7 linked regions of the Homo sapiens genome follow. The protein of the gene in region 1 purifies or fractionates together with the protein of each later gene. This does not show direct contact. Each region holds a gene or a part of one and is shown in the gene's direction. Other genes may lie near its edges.

Region 1 (3,500 bases):
TTCTCCTGCCTCAGCCTCCTGAGTAGCTGGGATTACAGGCGTGCACCACCACACCTGGCTAATTTTTGTATTTTCAGTAAAGACAGCGTTTCACCATGTTGGCCAAGCTGGTCTCAAACTCCTGACCTCAGATGATCTGCCCACCGCGGCCTCCCAAAGTGCTGGGATTACAGGCATGAGCCACCATACCTGGCCTTTTCTCTTTTCATAAAGATATTTTACAAGAGGTAATGTAAAACAAAAATCAAGTTGAATGGTGTAGAGTTGTAGTTAATCAGATTATTGTTTGGGTTTTAGATGGAACAAGAGGCTGAGAGGCGCAGGCAGCCACAAATAAAGCAAGAGCCAGAATCAGAAGAGGAGGAAGAAGAAAAGCAAGAAAAAGAAGAAAAACGAGAAGAACCCATGGAAGAGGAAGAGGAGCCAGAGCAAAAGCCTTGTCTGAAACCTACTCTGAGGCCCATCAGCTCTGCTCCATCTGTTTCCTCTGCCAGTGGCAATGCAACACCTAACACTCCTGGGGATGAGTCTCCCTGTGGTATTATTATTCCTCATGAAAACTCACCAGATCAACAGCAACCTGAGGAGCATAGGCCAAAAATAGGACTAAGTCTTAAACTGGGTACGTTAGCATTTCCTTCCTTCTTTATTTTCTTCCCTTCACCCCTGCAAATACCTGTATTGTGCTTTAAAGAAAAAAATTTATATTTGTGCTTGGTTAGGTAGATAGAAGATTACTAAAAAATGCCTTTCTAGCTCACGATTGTTTTCATAGTTTTACTAGTGCTCCTATATCTGCAGCTGCCTCGAGTTCTGAGAAGAAGTGAAAAGTTTAATTTTCTAGCACTTGTGAGTAGTGAGTTATTTTTTACAGTTGGGATCTTTCTCTAAGATTTGTGGAAGTATATTTTGCATTGCTTTTGAGGGATGGTGGGTTATAAAATGAAACATTTGGAAATTAAGTCATCTTGCTAAGAGAGTGTTTTTACTGTAGGTGCTTCCAATAGTCCTGGTCAGCCTAATTCTGTGAAGAGAAAGAAACTACCTGTAGATAGTGTCTTTAACAAATTTGAGGATGAAGACAGTGATGACGTACCCCGAAAAAGGAAACTGGTTCCCTTGGATTATGGTGAAGATGATAAAAATGCAACCAAAGGCACTGTAAACACTGAAGAAAAGCGTAAACACATTAAGAGTCTCATTGAGAAAATCCCTACAGCCAAACCTGAGCTCTTCGCTTATCCCCTGGATTGGTCTATTGTGGATTCTGTGAGTAGGAAATTATATTTCATCATATTATTGGGAACAGTTGGAATATGCCATACAAATTCATTTGAAGAAAAAAAAACCTCATTTGATTCTATTAATGACAAATAAGTAGGGATGATCATCTTGACACCAACTCAATGCCATGGTCAAGAAATTAGTAATAATGGAAATTTTTTTTGTGCTACTTGAAGACTTACTAAAAGCAGATGATTGTATCTTGATACATATCTGTCTTAGTTCAACTTGTGAAATAACATTATATTTTAGTCTCAGGAAAAATCATGAAGCTTTAATAACTGTTATAGCAAGTTACAATTCTTTAATTCAGTAACCGTGGTTTGTTTTGCAGATACTGATGGAACGTCGAATTAGACCATGGATTAATAAGAAAATCATAGAATATATAGGTGAAGAAGAAGCTACATTAGTTGATTTTGTTTGTTCTAAGGTTAGTCTTCTATTCTCTTCCATGCCAGCATTTATTTTATATATTAAAATATTAGACACTTCTTAAAAGAGCAGAAATTTTACAGAGTCAAGTTCCATGATGGTTTAGGTTCAGTTAAGTGATTTATATCTGCTTTTTTAAAGTTATTTTTATTTTTGGTGTGTTTTTTTTTATTCACTGCAGTGGATGCAGATTTATGTCTGCTTTAATGAACCTTTCCATCCAACTTCAGACTCCTCACACCACATGTTTTTATTTCAGTGGTCGAGGAGGATGGAATTGCTGGTTACTGCCAATTGTGTGCTGTCTTTCTGCCCCTGAGAATGCTGTGCCATCTTCTTCTTGTCTTGGTTGGAATAATTATGTTGAGATTTTTTGGACGTAGCCAATATCTTTTCCCAACTCCTTTGTCAGTCACCCATCCTTTGGATAGGATCAAAATAGTTCCTTTCATATCGTAGTAACGATCAGTGTTTATTGACTGACAGGCTGTGTTCTCGGCAGGTATTGTGTTAGTTTTGTTTGTTTTGTTTTGTTTTGTTTTTTGTTTTTTGTTTTTGTTTTTTCTTTTGAGTCGGAGTTTTGCTTTGTCCTACAGGCTGGAGTGCAGTGGCGCAATCATGGCTCACTGCAGCTTTGAACGCCCAGCCTAGACTGATCTTCCTGCCTTAGTATCCTGAGAAGCCGGAACTATAGGCATATGCCACCACACCCTGCTAATTTTTTTTTTCTTTTTTTGTTTTAAATTATACTTTAAATTCTAGGATACATATGCATAACGTGCAGGTTTGTTACATAGGAGTACATGTGCCATGGTGGTTTGCTACACCCATCAACCTGTCATCTACATTAGGTATTTCTCCTAATGCTCTCCCTCCCCTAGCTCCCCACCCGCCGACAGGCCCAGCTGTGTGATGTTCCCCTCCCTGTGTCCATGTGTTCTCATTGTTCAGCTACCACTTATGAGTGAGAACATGTGGTGTTTGGTTTACACCAGGCTAATTTTTTGTATTTTTAGTGGAGATGGGGTTTCACCATGTTGGCCAGGCTGGTCTTGAACTCCTGACCTCAAGTGATCTGCCCAAGTTGGCCTCCCAAAGTGCGGGGATTACAAGGCGTGAGCCATCACACCAGCCGAAGATAAAGTTCTATAAAATGTTAACAAGACAGTGGCCCACGCCTTGTAATTCCCGCACTTTGGGAGGCCAATGGGGCAGAACACTTGTGGTCACGAGTTTGAGACCAGCCCGGCCAATATGGTAAAACCCCGCCTCTACTAAAAAGTCAAAAATTGGGTGCGCTGGGTGGCAGGCACCTGTAATCCCAGCTACTCGGGAGGCTGAGGCAGGAGAATCACTTGAACCCGGGAGGCGGAGGTTGAAGTGAGCTGTGATTGCGCCATTGCACTCCAAGCCTGTGTGACAAGAGTGAGACTCTGTCTCAAAATAAAAAAAAAGAAAAAAGAAAAACTTCTTTTAACCTAACACTTAGAATCTGTCTGTCATGAATGTTATACCCATTTTATACATGAAGAAATTGAAGTTTAAGGAGAGATTGTGTCTTGGCTATGTTTTATACTGAGTCTAGCCTCTGAAACCCATGCTCTTAACCACTAAGGTATATCTTCCCATTGTCTCCTGAAAACATAGTCTTAACTTTAATAAAACAGTTAACATAGTAGAAACACCATATTTCTATAAAGGTATAGCTATGGTATTTTTTTGCCAGTAGTGCTCTTTTGATATTATGAACAGTAAATTTACTCTGTCTTCTCTAACTTGTA
Region 2 (3,500 bases), on another chromosome or scaffold:
ATGATTCGCCCACTTCAGCCTCCCAAAGTGCGGGGATTACAGGCATGAGCCACCGTGCCCAGCCTTTCAGTGCTTTTTTAGAAATAGATACCTGTTCTCTTTAGGGCCCTGACTCTCCCCCACCTCCCTGGATATGGGCAGGGGATGAGCGTTTTATATATATGCACATACATATAGAGATGTGTACATTTCTCACCTCTACATTGAAGCCTAACAGTGTACTTAACAACAGAGTATCTGCAAAACTAAATTATGAGTCTCTTTCTACTTAAATTGTTTAATTTTAATAGGTTTTTTGTTTGTTTTTGTTTTTGGAGACAGAGTCTCATTCTGTCACAGGCTGGAGTGCAGTGGCACGATCTCGGCTCACTGCAACCTCTGCCTCCCTGGTTCAAGCAATTCTCCTGCCTCAGCTTCCCGAGTAGCTGGGACTATAGGTGCGTGCCACCACACCCAGCTAATTTTTGTATTTTTAGTAGAGATGGGGTTTCACCTTGTTGGCCAGGATGGTCTCAATCTCTGGACCTCATGATTCACCCGCCTCGGCCTCCCAAAGTGCTAGGATTACAGGCATGAGCCACCGCGCCCGGCCGAATTTTAATAGTATTAAAACCAATCCCAGTGTTAAACTTACAGAGTAATATTGACCTATATACAACCACACTGACCTTGGTCAATTACTTAACTTTTTCTGAACCTCAGTTTCTCATCAGTAAAATGGAGATAATAATACCTATTTTTTAGGGTAGCATGTGTTATGAGAACTAATCTTTATAATGTTTTTATTACAGAAACAGAAAGCACTTCATTAATGGTGATATGATACAGATGATGATAGTTTCACCTCAGGCTGGACCTGGATATATGAAGGATCCTTATCTGGGATAGAGGTCATTTGCTGGGAGAGAAGGGATTGGGAGTATAGGAGGTATCTCATGCCAGTCTGTGCTAAATCACTGACAATACTGAAATTAAAAATAGATTAAGGTACACCTGAAAGGTAGTTTCTCTGCATTTTTTCTCAGCCTCCATAAGTAGCAGACGTCTTTTAGCCTTCCAGTATGGTTCCTTACCAACTTGAGTTATTTTCAATTTGGCTTGACAGCTACAACTTTTCTTTTATTCAGAGTCATCACCAGTGTTATCGCCAAGGAAGCCTTCTCACCCAGTCATGGATTTTTTCAGTTCACATCTTTTAGCTGACTCTTCCTCACCAGCAACAAATTCTAGTCATACAGATGCCCATGAAATACTTGTGAGCGATTTTCTTGTTTCTGATGAAAACCTTCAGAAGATGGAAAATGTGCTTGATCTTTGGAGTTCAGGTCTTAAGGTACGGTACAGCAGTTCTTCAATTACAGTTGTTTAGTATGTAATGTAATAGTTTTACTCTCATTTATACTGTTTTGTTTTTTTGAGTTAAACTTTCTAAAAATCTTTTGTTTCCTGAGATCAGTTTAGTGTCTTAAGTCTTGCTTCTCAATCTTTAATGTACTTACGAATCATAGCGGGAGCCTGTTAAACTACAGCTTCATATGCAGTAGGTCTTCAGCAGGGCCTAAGATCGTGCTTCTTTTTTTCTTTTTTTGACTCTTGTTTGTTTGTTTGATTTTACTTTAAGTTCTGGGATACATGTGGTGAACATGCAGGTTTGTTACATAGGTATACATGTGCCATGGTGGTTTGCTGCACCTATCAACCTGTCATCTAGGTTTCAAGCCCCACATGCATTAGGTATGTGTCCTAATGCTCTCCCTCCCCTTACCCTCCACCCCCTGACAGGCCCCGGTGTGTGATGTTCCCCTCCATGTGTCCATGTGTTCTCATTTCTGTCAAGCTCCCAGGTGTTGCTACTGGTTCAGAAACTGTACTTTGAGTTGCCAGGTTTTAAGTGGTTGCTGGAACGGTTCTACATGCTCCATTGAATTTCACAGATACTTTGAATGGCTCAGCCTGTGTGTAACTGAGACATACTGTGCCTTTACCATATCGTAGTTGTGACTAATAGAAATGTCTCCTTTTATGCAATAACGAAAGATCCAATTTTAGCAATGGATATTCATTTTATAGCCACTCCTATAGCAACTATGATGTGTAAGTGATAAAACTATAAAAGTTGATTTTTATTTTGATACTACTGGCCTTTAAGTAAAACAAAGTATTGCAGAAATAGTAAGTGGGTTTTATTTATTTATTTATTTATTTATTTTTATTATTATTATACTTTAAGTTTTAGGGTACATGTACACAATGTGCAGGTTAGTTACATATGTATACATGTGCCATGCTGGTGCGCTGCACCCACTAACTCATCATCTAGCATTAGGTATATCTCCCAATGCTATCCCTCCCCCCTCCCCCCACCCAACAACAGTCCCCAGAGTGTGATGTTCCCCTTCCTGTGTCCATGTGTTCTCCTTGTTCAATTCCCACCTATCAGTGAGAATATGCGGTGTTGGGTTTTTTGTTCTTGCGATAGTTTACTGAGAATGATGATTTCCAGTTTCATCCATGTCCCTACAAAGGACATGAACTCATCATTTTTTATGGCTGCATAGTATTCCATGGTGTATATGTGCCACATTTTCTTAATCCAGTCTATCATTGTTGGACATTTGGGTTGGTTCCAAGTCTTTGCTATTGTGAATAATGCCGCAATAAACATACGTGTGCATGTGTCTTTATAGCCGCATGATTTATAGTCCTTTGGGTATATACCCCGTAATGGGATGGCTGGGTCAAATGGTATTTGTAGTTCTAGATCCCTGAGGAATCGCCACACTGACTTCCACAATGGTTGAACTAGTTTACAGTCCCACCAACAGTGTAAAAGTGTTCCTATTTCTCCACATCCTCTCCAGCACCTGTTGTTTCCTGACTTTTTAATGATTGCCATTCTAACTGGTGTGAGATGGTATCTCATTGTGGTTTTGATTTGCATTTCTCTGATGGCCAGTGATGGTGAGCATTTTTTCATGTGTTTTTTGGCTGCATAAATGTCTTCTTTTGAGAAGTGTCTGTTCATGTCCTTTGCCCACTTTTTGATGGGGTTGTTTGCTTTTTTCTTGTAAATTTGTTTGAGTTCATTGTAGATTCTGGATATTAGCCCTTTGTCAGATAAGTAGGTTGTGAAAATTTTCTCCCGTTTTGTAGGTTGCCTGTTCACTCTGATGGTAGTTTGTTTTGCTGTGCAGAAGCTCTTTAGTTTAATTAGATCCCATTTGTCAATTTTGGCTTTTGTTGCCATTGCTTTTGGTGTTTTAGACATGAAGTCCTTGCCCATGCCTGTGTCCTGAATGGTAATGCCTAGGTTTTCTTCTAGGGTTTTTATGGTTTTAGGTCTAACATTTAAGTCTTTAATCCATCTTGAATTGATTTTTGTATAAGGTGTAAGGAAGGGATCCAGTTTCAGCTTTCTACATATGGCTAGCCAGTTTTCCCAGCACCATTTATTAAATAGGGAATCCTTTCCTCATTGCTTGTTTTTCTCAGGTTTGTCA
Region 3 (3,500 bases), on another chromosome or scaffold:
TTGTGTGGAGGGCTGCCGGGATCCTGGCCCTGTTTCCCTGTTGCCTGCTCCCGGAGGGGGTGGTCACGTGCCCGATCCATCTGCCTCCTGTCTTCCGGGGATTCTCCCGCCGAGGCTTCTCTGGTGATGTCATGCCTTAACTCTTCTCTCCCCAGGCAGCCCCACTGTCAGGCTGTCCTGGTGGGAGTGGGCTCTGAGGAGGATGGCCTACCCGTCTTTCCAGCGGACCATGCCGCTTGCAGCTGTGAGGTTGGGGGAGCCGGGGGCGTCTCTCCCCAGCTGGTCTGGGTCCTCCTGGTGCTGCCAGGACCGAGAGCAGCTGCCCTACTGCCCCCACCCTGTCCCACAGTGCATGGGTGCCAGACCTGGATGGGCTGCAGTAGTGCAGTGGGGTGAGGGGAGGTGCCGCAGGGTTGAGGGGCTCCAGATGGGTCCAGGGTTGACTCTGAACTCCTAGAGGAGAGGCGGGTGAGGCTGGCTCAGCCCTTGGTGGGCACTGTCCCTGAGGGACTCCCAGCGGCCGGCTGTCCTGGGAGAGGCTGGTCCAGCCTTCTTCCCCGAGGGCACAGCAGCGGCTGCCTCTGCCTGCCTGGGGTTGGGGGGGCGGGGGGAAGTGCACTGAACCTGGTCCCAGTCCTGCCCCCGTAGCAGGCAGGCGTCTGTCTCCCAGCCTGTTTCCTGAAAGCCCCTTCCCATGGTGGAGCCCCTCAGGGAGGTGCGGGGGGAGGTGAAGCCCCGAGGGGGCTGAGGCTGCAGGTGACCCCAGCCAGCCCCGTTCTTGCTTTAGGGCGACCATTGACGAGGTGGAGACGGACGTGGTGGAGATTGAGGCCAAACTGGACAAGGTGAAGGGCGGGCCTGGAGCGCCCTGTGCCCGGCCAAGCTTGGGATGGCCACATGGCCAGACTCGCCCTCCAGGCCTTACTAAGCCACTTACACCCCCCATATGTGGAGCATGCGTGTGGTGCTCCAGGTCCTGGTCCCTGTGTCTTAGCATGTGTGTTCCAGGGTGCACATGTCACATGCACACATGTGGCTGGCCCTGAGTCTCGTCCCATCTGGGAGGGGCTGGGCTGTGGTGAGTCCCCGACCCACGGTGGCTGCCCGTCCCCTCTGCTGGGCTGGTGACACGGGGACAGCTGCTGTGTGGGCTGAGCCTTGGTGTGGCTGGGGCTGGGGCTGAGAAAGGGGAGGGGGCAACAGGCCGTGGAGGGGGGAGCCGTGTCCATGAGCCCCACATGGGCTGAGAAAGAGGGGGCAACAGGCCGTGGAGAGGGGAGCCGTGTCCATGAGCCCCACATGGGCTGAGAAAGAGGAGGGGGCAACAGGCCGTGGAGCTGGGAGTGGGCAGCCTTATCCATGAGCCCCACATGGGCTGGTTCTGCTGGTCCTGCTGGCCCTGGGTCCCCTGCCTGGCTCCTGGTCCCTCCCAGCCGAGCCGTGGCGGCCCCACCCTCCCCTCCCAGACGGGCCTCCAAGCCCCAGGCAGGCCCAGGCGTGAGGAAGCTGCACCGGGGCACTGAGTCCTGAGTGCCAACGCCCTGAGTGGAACCTACCCTGGGAGCTCTTCCTGCCTCTGAGTGGCCGTGTGTGGTGGCGAGTGCAGGCGCCAGTGCCCACTGTGCTCACCACGCCCCGCTGGCCCACAGCTGGTGAAGCTGTGCAGTGGCATGGTGGAAGCCGGTAAGGCCTACGTCAGCACCAGCAGGCTTTTCGTGAGCGGCGTCCGCGACCTGTCCCAGCAGTGCCAGGGCGACACCGTCATCTCGGTGAGGGGCCGACTGACCTCTGACCTCAAGGTGGGGTTGGGGGAGAGGCCGAGGGAGGCAGCCCCTTGAGGGCGTCCAGGCCAGAAGCAGGCCGGTGTCTGCACCGCCCAGGGGCTCAGAGGGCGTGGCTGGGTGACCTGGGCCCGGATTTGCCATCTCAGCACGGGTTCCCATCTGCTCCTCCAGGAATGTCTGCAGAGGTTCGCTGACAGCCTACAGGAGGTGGTGAACTACCACATGGTGAGCGCGGCCTCCCTGCCACCTGTGGGCTGTGCCTGGCCTGGAACCGAGCTGCGCTGGCTCACCTGAAGGCCGGCGTCGGGTTGGGGGGGGCACGTTTCTGCTCCTCTAGTCGGGGGGGGGGGGAATCCCACATTTTCAAGTCAGTGTGGGGTTGGGGGACAGCCCTGGGGGCTCTGCCGTGTCCCAGGCAAGGGCCACACTAGACCCTGGGGGAGGGGTGGTTTATCCAGGGTTCCCCCAACTGGGCAGGGCTCTCGTCCCAGGCTGGCCTGGCTGCCATTTGGGTCTGGGTGGCCCCCGGGGGCCCTGGCACTGACGTGGATGGACACACAGGACAGGCACCCGTGAGATGTGGGGCTGCAGCCTGGGAACCTGAGCCGCAGACTGAACAGAGGAGGTCCCGAAGTAGACAAGGCAGGATGGCTCAGCCGTCCCTTTGCTCCTGGTTGTGCCCGGTCCTTCTCTACTTCGGGTTCCGATTCAGAGCCCAGGCTCCAGCTCCCCAGGCCCAGCCCCTGGGTGCTCCCGGCTCTGGCTGAGTGCTCCCTGCTGCAGGGATGGGCACCCCAGGGTGGCCGCCCAGGGCCAGGAGGCAGTGGGGCTCCGGCTCAGGCTGTGATGAGGCAGCCTTGGCCTCTGCACTCATCAAGGGCCAGGTGGGACAGAGGGGCAGGGGTGACAGCCATCGCCTCTGAGTGCCAACTCAGGCCTGGGGGCTGCTCCCCTGACCCCCTTGAGGCCAGCCCTGCAGGGTGGGACCCGCCCCTGCATCTGGGCCTGGGGGCAGTGCCCTCTGCTGGTGAGGATGGGGCCTTCCATCTGGGGCTCTTTCGGGACAGACCCCAAGGATCTCTGCCCGCCTCTGCCCCCAGATCCTGTTTGACCAGGCCCAGAGGTCCGTGCGGCAGCAGCTCCAGAGCTTTGTCAAAGAGTGAGTGGCCCCCAGGGCTGGGGGAAGAACACTGAGGCCACGCTCCCTCCCTTGGAGGGGAAGGGGGTCTGGGGCAGAGCAGAGGCACCTTGGGCCCAGGCCTCCAGGCTGTGCAGCGGCTCCACAAGGCAGAAGGCTCAGAGGCAGACAGCCGGGTGGAGTGCGGGGGGTTCCACACCCTGCATGTGTGGGTGGGGTGTCCAGCCCCCACAGCAGAGAGGTCCAGTCCACGTTGGGTTTGGGGGTCTGGAGTCTGGGGCATGGCTGGGGTCTGGGCTGGACAGATCTTGAGAGTGAGGTGGGGAGGGGCTGGGGAGGCCTGGAGCAGATGATCGGGGTCAGCAGGGGTGCGGGCAGGCCTGGGATAGGCTGGTGAGGAAGGAGGCTATGCCCAGGAGCAAAGAAAGGGCCTGGAGTGGAGGGGGGTGGGGCTGGGCATGGTGGCTCACACCTGTAATCCCAGCGTTTGGGAGGCCAAGGCCAGAGAATGCCAGGAGTTTGAGACCAGCCTGGGCAACGTAATGAGACCTCCATCTCTACAAAAAAAAAAAAAAAAA
Region 4 (3,500 bases), on another chromosome or scaffold:
AAGCTATAGTAGTGCCTAGTTTTGGAATATTCAGAACCATGATTCTTAAGAGAGTCTTTTTTTTTTTTTTTTGAGACAGGGTCTTGCTCTGTCACCCAGGCTGGAGTGCAGTGGCCTGGTCTTGGCTCACTGCGATCTCTGCCTTCTGGGCTCAAGTGATCCTCCCGCCTCTGCCTCTTGAGTAGCTGGGACTACAGATGCATACCACCATACTTGGCTAATTTTTGTATTTTTTGTAGAGACGGGGTTTTGCTGTGTTGCCCAGGCTGGTCTTGAACTCCTGAGCTCCTGGGAAAATTTCAGATATATGCAAAAATAGAATAGTATAGTGAACTAGTCCCCCATCTACCTAGCATCAATAATTACCCACTTTTTCCCCCTGGAGTATTGTAGAGCATCATAGCATTTACCCATAAAAACTTCGATATATAAGTGTTTTCAATGCAGCTGAAAATTGAGTTATTTAATGTATGTACATACTTTCTTTTCTTTTCTTTCTTTTTTTTTTTTTTGAGACAGAGTTGTTTCACTCTTGTTGCCCAGGCTGGAATGCAATGGCGCGATCTCGGCTCACCGTAACCTCCACCTCCCAGGTTCAAGCCATTCTCCTGCCTCAGCCTCCCGAGTAGCTGGGATTACAGGCATGTGCCACCATGCCCGGCTAATTTTTGTATTTTTAGTAGAGACAGTGTTTCTCCATGTTGGTCAGGCTGATCTCGAACTCCTGACCTCAGGTGATCCACCCGTTTTGGCCTCCCAAAGTGCTGGGATTACAGGCGTGAGCCACGGCACCCAGCCTTGTACATACTTTCTTAAAATGTACTTTCACTGCTCATTTTGTATTTGTGTGTTGCTGGGAGACTTCAAAGAGATACTCAACTGTCCATGTTCTCAGTGATAGAGGCCACCTTTCTGTTAATATATTGTAGCTTTTAATGGAAAAATCAAATAATTATCTTATAACTCAGGGGTGATTATCTCAGAAAGATGAAAATGTACTTTTTTAGAGATTTATAGATATGCGTATAACTTTTTGAGACAGGGCTCACTCTGTCACCCAGGCTGGAGAGCTATGGTGTGATCATGACTCACTGCAGCTTCAACCTCCTGGGCTCAAGCGATCCCCCCGTCTCAGCCTCCCAAGTAACTGGGACTACAGGCATGTGCCACCATGTCCAGCTAATTTTTAAAATTTTTTTGTAGAGATTGGGTCTTACTATGTTGCCCAGTCTGGTCTTAACTCCTGGGCTCTTCCCACCTCAGCTTCACAAAGTGGAGATTTAAGTTATGTGTTTTGTTATCTCAAAAACTTCAATAAACTTCAAAATCAGATTGTTGCCCCTCACTCGTGCCTATTTTATTACTTCTGCAATTTAAACTTGTTCTGTCTTTTTAGTGGAAAAATAGGTATATTTGTTTTTGGTTATTCTTTTCAGTATAAACTGAGTCTACTAGGTTTTTATTAAGTTTCTTATTTGATAGTTGTCTTCTGGTTCCTTTCCAAATTTTCTAAATCACTTGAATTTTTAAGAGCCCAAACATAGCAAGGTACTTTGTTAAAGGTTTGGCTAATGTGCTGAGGATGGAAAAACAATATCTAACATTGCAAAACTGTTTTGTTTTTTTTTTTTTTTTTGAGATGGAGTCTTGCTCTTTCGCCCAGGCCGGACTGCAGTGGCACTATATCGGCTCACTGCAAGCTCCGCCTCCCGGGTTCATGCCATTCTCCTGCCTCAGCCTCCTGAGTAGCTGGGATTACAGGTGCCTGCCACTGCGCCCGGCTAATTTTTTGTATTTTTAGTAGAGACGGGGTTTCACTGTGTTAGCCAAGATGGTCTCGATCTCCTAACCTCGTGATCCACCCGCCTCGGCCTCCCAAAGTGCTGGGATTACAGGCATGAGCCACCGTGCCTGGCCTTTTTTTTTGAGACAGAGTCTTGCTCTGTCACACAGGTTGGAGTGCAGTGGCATGATCTTGGCTCACGGCAACCTGCGCCTCCCGGGTTCAAGCAATTCTGCTGCCTCAGCCTCCTGAGTAGCTGGGACTACAGGCGCGTGCAACCATGCCCTGCTAATTTTTTGTTATTTTTAGTAGAGATGGCGTTTCACCATGTTAGTCAGGATGGTGTCGATCTCCTGACCTCGTGATCTGCCTGCCTCGGCCTCCCAAAGTGCTGGGATTACAGGCGTGAGCCACTGCCCAGGCCTCAAAACATTTTTAATGCATTCTTTTATAGTGCTAATTATTATTATTATTATTATTATTTTTTGAGGCAGAGTCTCGCTCTGTTGCCCAGGTTGGAGTGCAGTTGGGAGATCTTGGCTTACTGCAGCATCAGTCTCCGACTCCCAGGTTTAAGCAATTCTCCTGCCTCAGCCTCCCAAGTAGCTGAGATTACAGGTGCCCACCACCACGACTGGCTGATTTTTGTATTTTTAGTAGAGACGGGGTTTCACCATGTTGGCCAAGCTGGTCTCGAACCCCTGACCTTAGGTGATCCACCCGCCTCCCAAAGTGCTGGGAGCCACCACATCTGGTCTTGTAGTGCTAATTCTTTAAATAATTCTTTGTGTATAATTGTTTTTTTTTCTCTTTGCCCATTGCTTTTATTTGTTTCACATTTTACATCCTTCCCAAACATACTATATTTTTCACAGTAGCATTATATGTCTTACCTAGTTAGCTTGCCAGTTGGCAGAATGATTTTTAATTTTAATCTAGTGTCAGTATCCTCTGCTCTATGACATTTGTTATCGACCTCCAGTACTGGGCTTCTCATTAAGATAATACTTGTTATCGTTAGTCGTTAGTAAAATGTCTTTATGTGTTTTTTTTTTGTTTTTTTTTTTTTGAGACGGAGTCTTGCTCTGTCGCCCAGACTAGAGTGCAGTGTCACGTTCTTGGCTCATTGCAACCTCTGCCTCTTGGGTTTAAGTGTTGTGCCTCAGCCTCCTGAATAGCTGGGACTACAGGTGAGCGCCATCACGCCCAGCTAATTTTTGTATTTTTAGTAGAGGTGGGGTTTCACCATATTGGCCACGCTGGCCTTGAACTCCTGACCTCAGGTGATCTGTCTGCTTTGGCCTCCCAAAGTGCTGGGATTACAGGCATGAGCCACCATGCCTGGCCAGTAAAATGTCTTTAAAAGTAGTGAAAGGCCTTTTGAATCTTGTAGATTGTTATACTTAGATAATTTTTTTCATTGGCTTTTTACTCTTAGGGGATTTGTGTATAATGCTTCAAAATGTAGAGAGTATTTTATTTATTTGTTTGTTTTTATATAGAGAAAAAGAAGAATCCATTCAGCTTCATCAGGAAGCTTGGGAACGACATCATTTAAGAAAGGAACTTCGTAGCAAAAACCAAAATGCTCCGGACAGCCGACCAGAGGAAAACTTCTTCAGCCGCCTCGACTCAAGTTTGAAGAAAAATACTGCTTTTGTCAAGAAACTAAAAACTATTACAGAACAACAGAGAGACTCCTTGTCCCATGATTTTA
Region 5 (3,500 bases), on another chromosome or scaffold:
GCTCGCTGCAACCTCCTTTTCCCAGGTTCAAATGATTCTCCTGCCTCAGCCTCCTGAGTAGATGGGACTACAGGCGCGCGCACCGCCATGCCCAGCTAATTTTTGTATTTTTAGTAGAGACGGGGTTTCACCATGTTGGCCAGGATGGTCTCAATCTCTTGACCTTGTGATCTGCCCACCTCGGCCTCCCAAAGTGCTGGGATTACAGGCGTGAGCCGCCGTACCCAGCCACCTTTGTTATTAATGAAAAGCTTTTCCCCTTCTAATTTCTTATCTGTGGATTGATAATAGTGCCATTCATTTCACTTTGAGAAATACGCAGAACTCATTGTCCAGTGGTCACTGCTTTGTTAGAGTATAAGTTATTGGCCTCAATAGTTTGTTCTCTGGTCTCCTCAGTTAAAAAGGACTTTTTTATGGGTCTAAGACAGGCTAAAGGTAGTATGTGGACTTTAATAGATACATATATCCAACGGGCAATATTTGACACTAGGCAAGCTGAAGAAAGTGTGAATTTTGAATATCTTATGTTTTGTGGAAGGTGAGGGATGAGTGCTTCCCCCCCACACACATATCAATTAGTTATTTTTGACAAAGTTAGTGTTAGTGTCATCTGGAAGCTACAGAAATTATTTAAAAAACAAAAAAACAAAAAAACTTTGGCTAGAATTGTTAGAAGCTGGCTTAGTCTGAAGGCACCCAGTACAAATTGTGTTTTAGAATGTTTTAAGAATGTTACTGATTTCGCCCCAAGCTGGCCCATGCACAGGAAGCCCTTCATGTGCACTTTGCTCCTCAAGGAAAATTAATATTTTTCCTAGATGGAACCCTATGGTGCTTATTCCCTGATCTCTTAGAGCATTTGCTGCAAAAGCCTGTTTTTGCCAGAGCTACTTTATTCCTGTAACACAGGGAGTCCTGGGATTCACATTGGCTCTCTTGGGCCAGGGAGAACTCTGGAAAGGTGACTGAGATCAGTTGCTCTGCTGGGAGTTTTGGCTTTTCATACTGAGACAGGCTTTGCACAGTGTCCAGTTCTCTTCCTTATGTCCATCAATAAGTATTTATTTATTGAGCTACTTGTGTTTGCTAAGCACTGTGCCAGGACTAGTGAGGTAAAAGGAAAAAAAAGTGGGTCCCTGTACTCAAAACAGATTCCACTCCTGGTGGGTAGGGGTGGTGGACAACGACAATGTACAGTGAAGGACAAGGAGGGTGTGAAGTGGGAACTGTGGAAATGGTCATTATAAAGCCAAAATTTTTGATTAAGCCTTGGTTACAATTAAAAGAAACAATGGTATCAAGTTGGTTGCTCTGAGAAAAATAAATCCTAGGCTAGTTACTTCCCTCAGTGGGATATGAGGAAGAAGAGGGTGGAGGTTAGGAACACTGAGCAGACAAGTGGAGAAGATCTTATTTAAATTGAAAATCACACATGTTCTCTTTTGTTTACAGGGAAGCAGGAAGTTTCATGAGACAGTCACAGTTCTTTCTGTGCCATTAAACACAAAATTCTTTGAGATAGTTATTCAGTATTAAATATATGTTTCATGTTTAATCTCCCTGGAATGAAACTTTGAACATCAGTGCATGTAAAATGTACTTTTCACTTAATTTGTAGAATTTGATTTTACTTTAATCTATTACTGCATAAATCCGCTGAGAAAAATCTCCGGCCCTTAACTGTGTTTCTGTCTTACTAGCTGAACAAGTAAAATGAATTGTGATGCTGGGGGATTAAAATCCAAACAATTTGATACCTTGTTTCTTCAGTAGAACCCTCAACAGACCTGCCCTGTGCAGTTCCCACCAGCTTCTTTGAACTGAGGCTCTGTGGCCCAGAGAGACCATTTAAATCTTGTGATAATTTTGTATTCATTCAATCCTTTTGTTTCTAAAAGTGGTAGCCATACCAAGATTCTCCAGGATCTAGTCTATCCTATTCTTAAGGGATCTTAAAACAGTGGATTGGTTGCCTAAGCATATAGTACGAAGGGTTTCCTGGTGATGCATTTGGTCTCTGAGCTGTCCAAATCTGCATGTTAGTCCACTACTCAATTTTCAGTGATCATTTTTACATTACAAATTTTAGACACATATACCTGAATTACAGATACTGCATGGAAGGGAATCTCAGTTTGGTTCCATTCGATTATCCAAGATGATGTGTTTCCTTATTCTGTTTACGTGTCATTTGAAAATCCTTGATTTAAAAAAAAAGAAGGCTGGGTGCAGTGGCTTACGCCTGTAATCCCAGCACTTTGAGAGGCTGAGGTGGGAGGATCACCTGAGGTCCGGAGTTAGAGACCAGCCTGGCCAACATGGTGAAACCCCATCTCTACTAAAAATACAAAAATTAGCTGGGTGTGGTGGTGCACACCTGTAATTCCAGCTGCTCGGGAGGCTGAGGCAGGAGAATCACTTGAACCCAGGAGGCGGAGGTTGCAGTGAGCCAAGATTGCGCCACTGCACTTCAACCTGGGTGACAAAGTGAGACTCTATCTCAGAAAAAAAGAAGAATCTTGGTGTGAAGTAGTGCTTTCTAAGGATTTGAGCATTGGATGGGATCAAGTGATGTATATAAATCCTTTCTCTACCTTGAACCACAGGAGCAACTCACCATACCTGGTACATGAATAGAAGAGTGATTTGTCTATAGAGTTGGGATAGTTTGAGACGTAACAGCTATGAAATATTTTATAGTGATTACTTACACACAAAATGTTTTCCCACTCATTAGCCCTAGCTGACCTCACCTTACTTTATTATCCACCCTGTCCTCTCCAGTGTTAGCTTCTCTCCTCATTCTTTACATGCTGACCCTTTTTATGCACAATCCTTTTTGATGGATTTGACTACATGGAACAAGCTTCCTGTGCTTATTTGCCTCACTAATTTCTTGTTGTTAAGTTGCCCCCTAAAAGTTTACTGTCTCTTGATATTCTTTTTCTAACGTTTTTACAAGGGTTAAGCCCTCCTGGTGGGTTTCTTAGAGTGTTTTAATATTTGAAATTATTTATATGCTTTAGGAAGTAGAATCCTTCCCCCTTCTCTATCAGAACAACCCAAGATTATTCTCTTAGTGTGCATTTTCTTCCACTGTACTTCAGATAAACTGAAAAACTGAAAGATTGTTTCCAAAGGTTCTTATAATACAAGGACTGGTCTAAGAGTAAATTTTTTAGTGAGTCGTCTTCAGATCACTTCAGAATTAGCAGTTATTGCCGTGATATTGGAGGGAGAAAGTTAAGGGAGCCGCCTGTCTTTAGTTGCCTTGGAGAAACTGTTTCTTCAGGGTACTAGACAAGTTTCCCAACTTAGGTGCCTCCTTTATTCCCTTTTTAAAAGAATAGCAATATGAAACTGCCGTAGCATCCTTAAAACACTGAACTACTTGCTGTCTCTGTCATTTTGGCAGCATTATCTTTAGCATTGTTTGAATGTTTTGTCTAATTCTTGTAATAAAAATAAAATGCTTGTCTAATCCTTAAAAAGATTTC
Region 6 (3,500 bases), on another chromosome or scaffold:
TAGCTGAGCATGGTGGTACAGGGCTGTAGTTCCTGCTTCTTGGGAAGCTGAGGTGGGAGGATCACTAGAGCCCAGGAGGTCAAGGGTGCAGTGAGCTGTGATTGTACCACTGCACTCCAGCTTGGGTGACAGACCTTGTCTTGCAAATAAATAAATAAATAAGACAACAGAAGTCTGCCATGTTGATGGACTCTTCCTTTCATGAAAGATTTCTGTGTATCATACGATGCTGTTGGATAGCATTTAGTAGAATTCTTTTAAGATTGAAGTCAATCCTCTCAGACCCTGCTACTACTGTATCAGCCAAGTTTATGTACTATCCTAAACCTTTTGTTGTCATTTCAACAGTTATCATAGCATCTTCACCAGCAGTAGATTCCATCTCAGTAAATCACTTGGCTGGGTGCAGTGGCTCATGCCTGTAGTCCCACCACTTTGGGAGGCTGAGGGGGGCGGATCACCTGAGGTCAGGAGTTTGTGACCAGCCTGACCAGTATGGTGAAACCCCGTCTCTACTAAAAATACAAAAATTAGCTCGGCGTGGTGGCAGGCGCCAGTAGTCCCAGCTACTTGGGAGGCTGAGACAGGAGAATTGCTTGAACCTGGGAGGTGGAGGTTGCGGTGAGCCGACTTTGCACCACTGCACTCCAGCCTGGGCGATGCAGCAAGACTGTCTCAAACAAAAAAAAAAAAGGAAGAAAACCACTTTGTTTGCTCATCCTTAAGAAGGAGCTCCATATCTGGTCAGGTTTGATCATGAGATTGCAGCATTCAGTCCCATCTTCAGGCTCTACTTCTAATTCTCGTTCTCTTGCAGTTTCCACCACATTTGCAGTTACTTCCTTCACTGAAGTCTTGAGCCACTCAAAGTCATCCATGAGGGTTGGAATCTACTTCTTCTTAACTTCTGTTAATGTTGATATTTTGACCTCCTCCCACAAATCACGAATGTTCTTAATGACATCTAGAATGGTGAATCTTTTTCAGAAGGTTTTCAATGTACTTGCCCATATCCATCAGAGGAATCACCATCTATGGCAGCTATAGCCTCACAAAATGTATTTTTTTTTAATTTTTATTTTTAGAGATGGGGCCTCACTACGTTGCTCAAGTGATCCTTCTACCTCAGCCTCCTGAGTAGCTGGGACTACAGGTGCATGCCACATGTCAGGCTGTATTTCTTAAATAGTAATACTTGAAAGTTGAAATTACTCTTCGATCCATGGCTGCAGAATGACTGTTATGTTAGCAGGCATGAAAACAGTATTTTTTTTTTTTTGAGACAGATTCTCACTCTGTCACCCAGGTTGAGTACAGTGGTGCAGTCTCACCTCACTGCAACCTCTGCCTCCTGGGTTCAAACAGTTCTCTTGCCTCAGCCTTCTGAGTAGCTGGGATTACAGGTGTGCACCACTACGCCCGGCTGATTTTTTGTATTTATAGTAGAAATGGGGTTTCACCATGTTGACTGTGTTGGCCAGGCTGGTCTTGAACTGGCCTCAAGTGATCCACCTGCCTCAGCCTCCCAAAGTGCTGGGTTTACAGGTGTCAGTCACTGTGCACAGCTGAAAACAATATTAATTTCCTTGTACATCATATCCATCAGAGCTCCTGGGTGACCTGGAGTATTGTCAATGAGCAGTAATATTTTAAAAGGATTTCTTATTAAAAGAGCAGTCATATTTAAAAGGATCTTTGTTCTGAGCGGCAGGTCTCAACAGTGATCTTAAAATATTTGATAAACCCTGCTGTAAACAGATGTGCTGTCATCCAAGCTTTGTTGTTCCATTTCTAGAGCACAGGCAGAATAGATTTAGCATCATTCTTTTTTTTTTTTTGAGATGGAGTCTTGCTCTGTCGCCCAGGCTGGAGTGCAGTGGCGCAATCTCTGCTCACTGCAAGCTCCACCTCCAGATTCACGCCATTCTCCTGCCTCAGCCTCCCAAGTAGCTGGGACTACAGGCGCCTGCCACCACGCCCGGCTAATTTTTTGTATTTTTAGTAGAGACGGGGTTTCACCGTGTTAGCCAGGATGGTCTTGATCTCCTGACCTCGTGATCCACCCGCCTCGGCCTCCCAAAGTGCTGGGATTACAGGCGTGAGCCACCGCGCCCGGCCGATTTAGCATCATTCTTAACGGCCTTGGGATTTTTGGTATAGTCAGTGAGCATTGGTTTCAACTTAAAGTCACCAGCTGGATTAGCATGTAACAGAAGAGTCAGCTTGTCTTTGAAGCTTTGAAGCTAGGCATTGACTTTTCCTCTCTAGCTGTGAAAGTCCTAAGTGGCATCTTCCAATATAAGGCTGTTTCGTCTTCATGGAAAATTTGTTATTTCATGAAGTCATCTTCATCAGTGATCTTAGCTAGATCTTCCAGATAACTTGATGCATGCTGCAGCTTCTTTTTTTTTTTTTTTTGAGACAGATTCTCACTCTGTTGCCCAGGCTGGAGTGCAGTGGCATGATCTCAGCTCACTGCAACCTTCGCCTCCTGGGTTCAAGCAATTCTCCTGCCTCAGCCTCCTGAGTAGCTGGGATTACAGGCACACGCCACCATGCCTGGCTAACTTTTGTATTTTTAGTGGAGACAGGGTTTCACCATGTTGGTCAGGCTGGTCTTGAACTCCTGAGCTTGTGATCTGCCTGCCTCGGCCTCCTAAAGTGCTGGGATTACATAGGCGTGAGCCACTGCACCTGGCCACTTGCTGTAGCTTCTGTGTCAGCACTTGCTGCTTCACCTTGCACTTTTAAATTATGGAGACAGCTTCTTTCCTTAAATTTTTCTTTTCTTTTTTTTTTTTTTTTGAGATGGAGTAATTCACTGCGCCTGGCCTCTTTCCTTAAACTTCATGAATTAACCTCTGCTAGCTTCAGACTTTCTTTTGCAGCTACCTTCCCTCTCTCAGCCTTTATAGAATTGAATAAAGTTAGGGCTTGTTTGGAATTAGGCTTTGGCTTAAGGGATCGTTGTGGCTGGTTTGACCTATGTAGATTACTAAAACCTTCTTCATATCAGCAGTAAGCCTGTTTCATTTTATCATTCATGTGTTCACTGGAATAGCACTTCTAATTTTCTTTAAGAACTTTTCCTTTGCATTTACAACTCAGCTATTGTTTGGTACTAGAGGCCTAGCTTTCCGCTTATCTTGGCTTTCAACGTGCCTTTCTCACTATGCTTAATCATTTTTAGCTTTTGATTTAAAGTAAGAGATGTGCCATTCTTCCTTTTACTTGAACACTTAAGAGTCTCTTGTAGGGTTAATTGGCCTCATTTCAGTATTGTGTCTCGGGGAATAGGGAGCACTGAGAGGGAGAAAGATGGGAATGGCTGGTTGGTGGAGTAGTCAGAACACATACAACATTTATGGATTAAGTTCACCATCTTATATGGGCACAGTTTGTGGTGCCCCAAAACAATTGCGGTAGTAAGATCAAAGATTATAGATGGTAATAACAGATACAATAGTAATGAAAAAGTTTGAAATCTTGTGAGAATCACC
Region 7 (3,500 bases), on another chromosome or scaffold:
TAATATTTTTTAGACTTGAAGTGATTGCTAAATTTGGGATCATATAGCAGCTTCGGATGAAGAATATTTTGTTTTTGTCCAAGTTTATTCTGAATCACCCTTCTGCTTTCATTGCCATTGTAATTCTCTGGCAACTGAAAGTTAAGTCTGATTCCTTAGTTATAAAACTTGACTTTATTCAGGTATTCAGGGTCTTTTTAGAAGATGCTTTGCTTCATGAAATTAGATTTTTCTCTCAGTACCCCACCCTTTTAAAAATGCAGTTGTTAAAATTAAATGTACTTTGTGATATCCATTTCCTCACTGAAAACAGTTTTTACTCATTGTAATGAATATTTGATACATATTAACTTTTCATAGTTAGGAAATTGAATTAAAAATAAATAGAAAAGGAATTTTTAAATGAATGTCTTTGTTCTCAGTATTGGAATTAATAAAACTTTTCAAAGCCAATAATTTTTATTTATTTGTATTAATTATTCCTGGCTTGAATTAAATTCCCTTGAAAAAATGTTTTGCAGGTTAATGAATCCAAAACTATTTTAAAGCTTTGCGATTTTGGGTCGGCTTCACATGTTGCGGATAATGACATAACACCTTATCTTGTCAGTAGATTTTATCGTGCTCCTGAAATCAGTAAGTTTCTTAATGTTCTTTGACCTGGGCCATCATATGTGGTGGAAACCGCATACTTAATGTCTAAGCACTGTTTTCCATCACACTTCAGCAGCTGCACGAGTTCATTCATGAGGAAGGGAACCATAGCAAGTTCATCCTCCTCAGGTGGAATGAAGGTAGTTGTGACAGGAGTCTTGATCATGTCGGGCAAGAGTAGCAAAACAGTTGTGGAAAATCCTCGACTTTAGAAGACTGCTCTTGATTATTCAAGGTCTGATTATCACATTTATGGATTGTATGGGACCTTTGTTTTTTCCTGTTGCCTTGGTTGAGGCTGATTAGCACCTCCACCAAAGGCGAAATGAGAAAAGAGAAGAAATACATATTTTCTTTTGCCCTTTAAGTTCCTCCCCTACACCTCCATTTTTTAAGGTTTTTAAGTTTGAGTCTCTATTAAGAATTAGTGGGAAAGAACACAAAACTAATTGTCAAACTAAGGCATGAAGATTGTGGTTATAGTCCAAGCTAAGGTAGCCAGCCCCTCATTAATGGAAATAAAAATTAATAGTCGTCAGTTTTCTCTATCCTCGTATATTAAAACTTTGATTTTGTTTTCAGTTATAGGTAAAAGCTATGACTATGGTATAGATATGTGGTCTGTAGGTTGCACCTTATACGAACTCTATACTGGAAAAATTTTATTCCCTGGCAAAACCAATAACCATATGCTGAAGCTTGCAATGGATCTCAAAGGAAAGATGCCAAATAAGGTAAGACATTAGCATGAGCTTCTTTAAGGTCTTAGTTTCTTATTAACTGACAAGACTGCTGACACTTGCTCACCACTAGTGAGCTATAAAACAAAAATTTCAGAAAGGTGGGTAGATGGCTATCATGATTTCTTAGGGTCTTTCCCTTTTCTGGTGTTTTAAATTAGTGGTTCTAATCAGCCAAGCGCTAAGGATAAGAGAACTTGTTCAATGATGGACAGAGAGCAGCAATATTTTGGGGATACACCCTTATGGGTAAAAGTTTCAAAATGTTTGGAAGACAGAATGGAAAAAGATGTAAGTTGAATTAGGTAAAATACAAGAACATGCTTAGTGGTCAGAGAATGAATAGGTGAATATTAGATATTGTAAGAGGAACTTGATGTTAATTAATTTATTAAAGATTGGAGGTTATTTGAGAAAGTAAGGTACCTTTCTTGGTACCTTTTCTTATTTAATATCTTTCTAACTCACCGCTGATACTTCAGCTATAATGCTAGTTTCTGTTTAACATGAAGCAAGAATGTAAGCATTTATTAAAGTATCTGAGGGCCATAACTTAGCTTTTTTTTTTTTTTTTTTTTTGAGACGGAGTCTTGCTTTGTCGCCCAGGCTGCAGTGCAGTGGCGCGATCTCAGCTTACTGCAAGCTCTGCCTCCCGGGTTCATGCCATTCTCCTGCCTCAGCCTCCCGAGTAGCTATAGGCATGAGCCACCGCACCCGGCTGTAACTTAGCTTTTTAAGATTTCAGCCTATTTGCTGAATTTCTAAAGATTTACACATTTTTCGTAAAGGTCAGAAAACTGTATGGTTTTCAGTTGTGTTTTGTTGTTGTTGTTGTTTTGAGACTGGATCTTGCTCTGTGTCCCAGACTGGAGTACAGTTATAGCTCACTGCAGCCTTGAACCGAACCCCTGGGCTCAAGCAGTTCTCCTGCCTCAGTCTCCAATGTAGCTGGGACTACAGGCATGTGCCACCACAACCAGTTAATTTATTTAATAATTTTTTTGTAGAGATGGAGTTTCACTATGTTGACCAGGCTGATTTGTACATATTGTCCAAATTCTATTAGGTTGGACTTTTTTTAGAATAAGTTACATAAAAATGAGCTATGTTGGTATTAGTTTTAATGAAGTCTGACCTGTATCAGGGCTGTTGGAACATAATTAGTAAAGTGGCATTAGGTTCCCTAACTGCCAAGGAGAAAAAACCTGAGTTTTGTGATATTTTTAGGAAGAAATAATTTAAAGTCTTTGTTGACTCTCCAATTTTAAATAGTGAAAGGACAATTTGATGTTATAATTGTTTTAAGTCACTGCCTGGACAAATATAATTTCATGTTATTAAGTAGTTTTAGGTACAGCATTGGTATTTGCTTTTGCAAAGATGTTAATGAATTCCTGGGATCAAGGGAATCTGAGATCAAACAAACCTACAGAGACTAAATAACATACTTATTTGACTTATTGTATATTAATTAAATTGTTAGTAGGCCTGTTTCATAATAGTTCAAAACCCAAGTTTTTGTTTTGTTTTGTAGATGATTCGAAAAGGTGTGTTCAAAGATCAGCATTTTGATCAAAATCTCAACTTCATGTACATAGAAGTTGATAAAGTAACAGAGAGGGTAAGTGTTTTAAATGCAGCATGCAATAGTTATTTTATTGTTAACTGAGTACTAAATCATACGAGCTGGTGAATTAAAAAAAAAACAAAAACCCAAAAGTAAGTATTTCCTTTTTGCTGTCGACCAATTCCTAAATAAAACACATCAGACCATGGAAAAGATGGAGGGATTTTAAAATGTTTTTCTAGCATAATTAATTTATTTTTATTATAGGTCATATTTAGGCCCTCGTCACATCTTCTTTGGATTACTTTCTTGGTCTGGCTTCCCATCCAGCTTTCTTATTGCTGCTAGAGTGATGTTTCTGAAAACATATCTGGTCATGTTCCTATCCCTGCTTAAAAACCTTTGTTGGCTCCCTGTTACCTATGAAATAATATTTAAGTTCCTCAGAATGACAAATCCAACTGCTTTCTTCAGTTTTCAGACCTCTCTTCAGTACATTCAGAACCCCCACCTTTCCACATTTGGCCAGAAGGCGTGCT

What was found.
Region 2: the proteins of RBM25 (region 1) and POC5 purify together in Homo sapiens (co-immunoprecipitation; one large-scale study listed by IntAct). This does not show direct contact.
Region 3: the proteins of RBM25 (region 1) and ACAP3 purify together in Homo sapiens (affinity purification with mass spectrometry; one large-scale study listed by BioGRID and IntAct). This does not show direct contact.
Region 4: the proteins of RBM25 (region 1) and UPF2 fractionate together in Homo sapiens (co-fractionation; one large-scale study listed by BioGRID). This does not show direct contact.
Region 5: the proteins of RBM25 (region 1) and CPSF7 purify together in Homo sapiens (affinity purification with mass spectrometry, with the first as the bait; one large-scale study listed by BioGRID). This does not show direct contact.
Region 6: the proteins of RBM25 (region 1) and PPIL4 purify together in Homo sapiens (affinity purification with mass spectrometry, with the first as the bait; one large-scale study listed by BioGRID). This does not show direct contact.
Region 7: the proteins of RBM25 (region 1) and PRP4K purify together in Homo sapiens (affinity purification with mass spectrometry; 2 studies listed by BioGRID and IntAct, with this or other methods). This does not show direct contact.

The regions. Positions count from the first base shown.
Region 1 is NC_000014.9:73,110,534-73,114,033, forward strand, and holds part of RBM25 (RNA-binding protein 25), read left to right. Parts: intron 1-297; coding exon 298-622; intron 623-775; coding exon of another isoform or gene 776-891; exon of another isoform or gene 892-994; coding exon 995-1,269; intron 1,270-1,618; coding exon 1,619-1,717; intron 1,718-3,500. UniProt on the Homo sapiens protein: RNA-binding protein that acts as a regulator of alternative pre-mRNA splicing. Involved in apoptotic cell death through the regulation of the apoptotic factor BCL2L1 isoform expression.
Region 2 is NC_000005.10:75,700,438-75,703,937, reverse strand, and holds part of POC5 (centrosomal protein POC5), read left to right. Parts: intron 1-1,127; coding exon 1,128-1,333; intron 1,334-3,500. UniProt on the Homo sapiens protein: Essential for the assembly of the distal half of centrioles, required for centriole elongation. Acts as a negative regulator of centriole elongation.
Region 3 is NC_000001.11:1,301,431-1,304,930, reverse strand, and holds part of ACAP3 (arf-GAP with coiled-coil, ANK repeat and PH domain-containing protein 3), read left to right. Parts: intron 1-118; exon of another isoform or gene 119-202; coding exon of another isoform or gene 203-249; intron 250-787; coding exon 788-845; intron 846-1,649; coding exon 1,650-1,769; coding exon of another isoform or gene 1,770-1,799; intron 1,800-1,955; coding exon 1,956-2,009; intron 2,010-2,884; coding exon 2,885-2,943; intron 2,944-3,500. UniProt on the Homo sapiens protein: GTPase-activating protein for the ADP ribosylation factor family.
Region 4 is NC_000010.11:12,029,310-12,032,809, reverse strand, and holds part of UPF2 (regulator of nonsense transcripts 2), read left to right. Parts: intron 1-3,285; coding exon 3,286-3,500. UniProt on the Homo sapiens protein: Involved in nonsense-mediated decay (NMD) of mRNAs containing premature stop codons by associating with the nuclear exon junction complex (EJC).
Region 5 is NC_000011.10:61,423,476-61,426,975, reverse strand, and holds part of CPSF7 (cleavage and polyadenylation specificity factor subunit 7), read left to right. Parts: intron 1-3,500.
Region 6 is NC_000006.12:149,536,044-149,539,543, reverse strand, and holds part of PPIL4 (peptidyl-prolyl cis-trans isomerase-like 4), read left to right. Parts: intron 1-3,500. UniProt on the Homo sapiens protein: PPIases accelerate the folding of proteins. It catalyzes the cis-trans isomerization of proline imidic peptide bonds in oligopeptides.
Region 7 is NC_000006.12:4,055,800-4,059,299, forward strand, and holds part of PRP4K (serine/threonine-protein kinase PRP4 homolog), read left to right. Parts: exon of another isoform or gene 1-453; intron 454-521; coding exon 522-636; intron 637-727; exon of another isoform or gene 728-889; intron 890-1,236; coding exon 1,237-1,388; intron 1,389-2,928; coding exon 2,929-3,015; intron 3,016-3,500. UniProt on the Homo sapiens protein: Serine/threonine kinase involved in spliceosomal assembly as well as mitosis and signaling regulation. Connects chromatin mediated regulation of transcription and pre-mRNA splicing.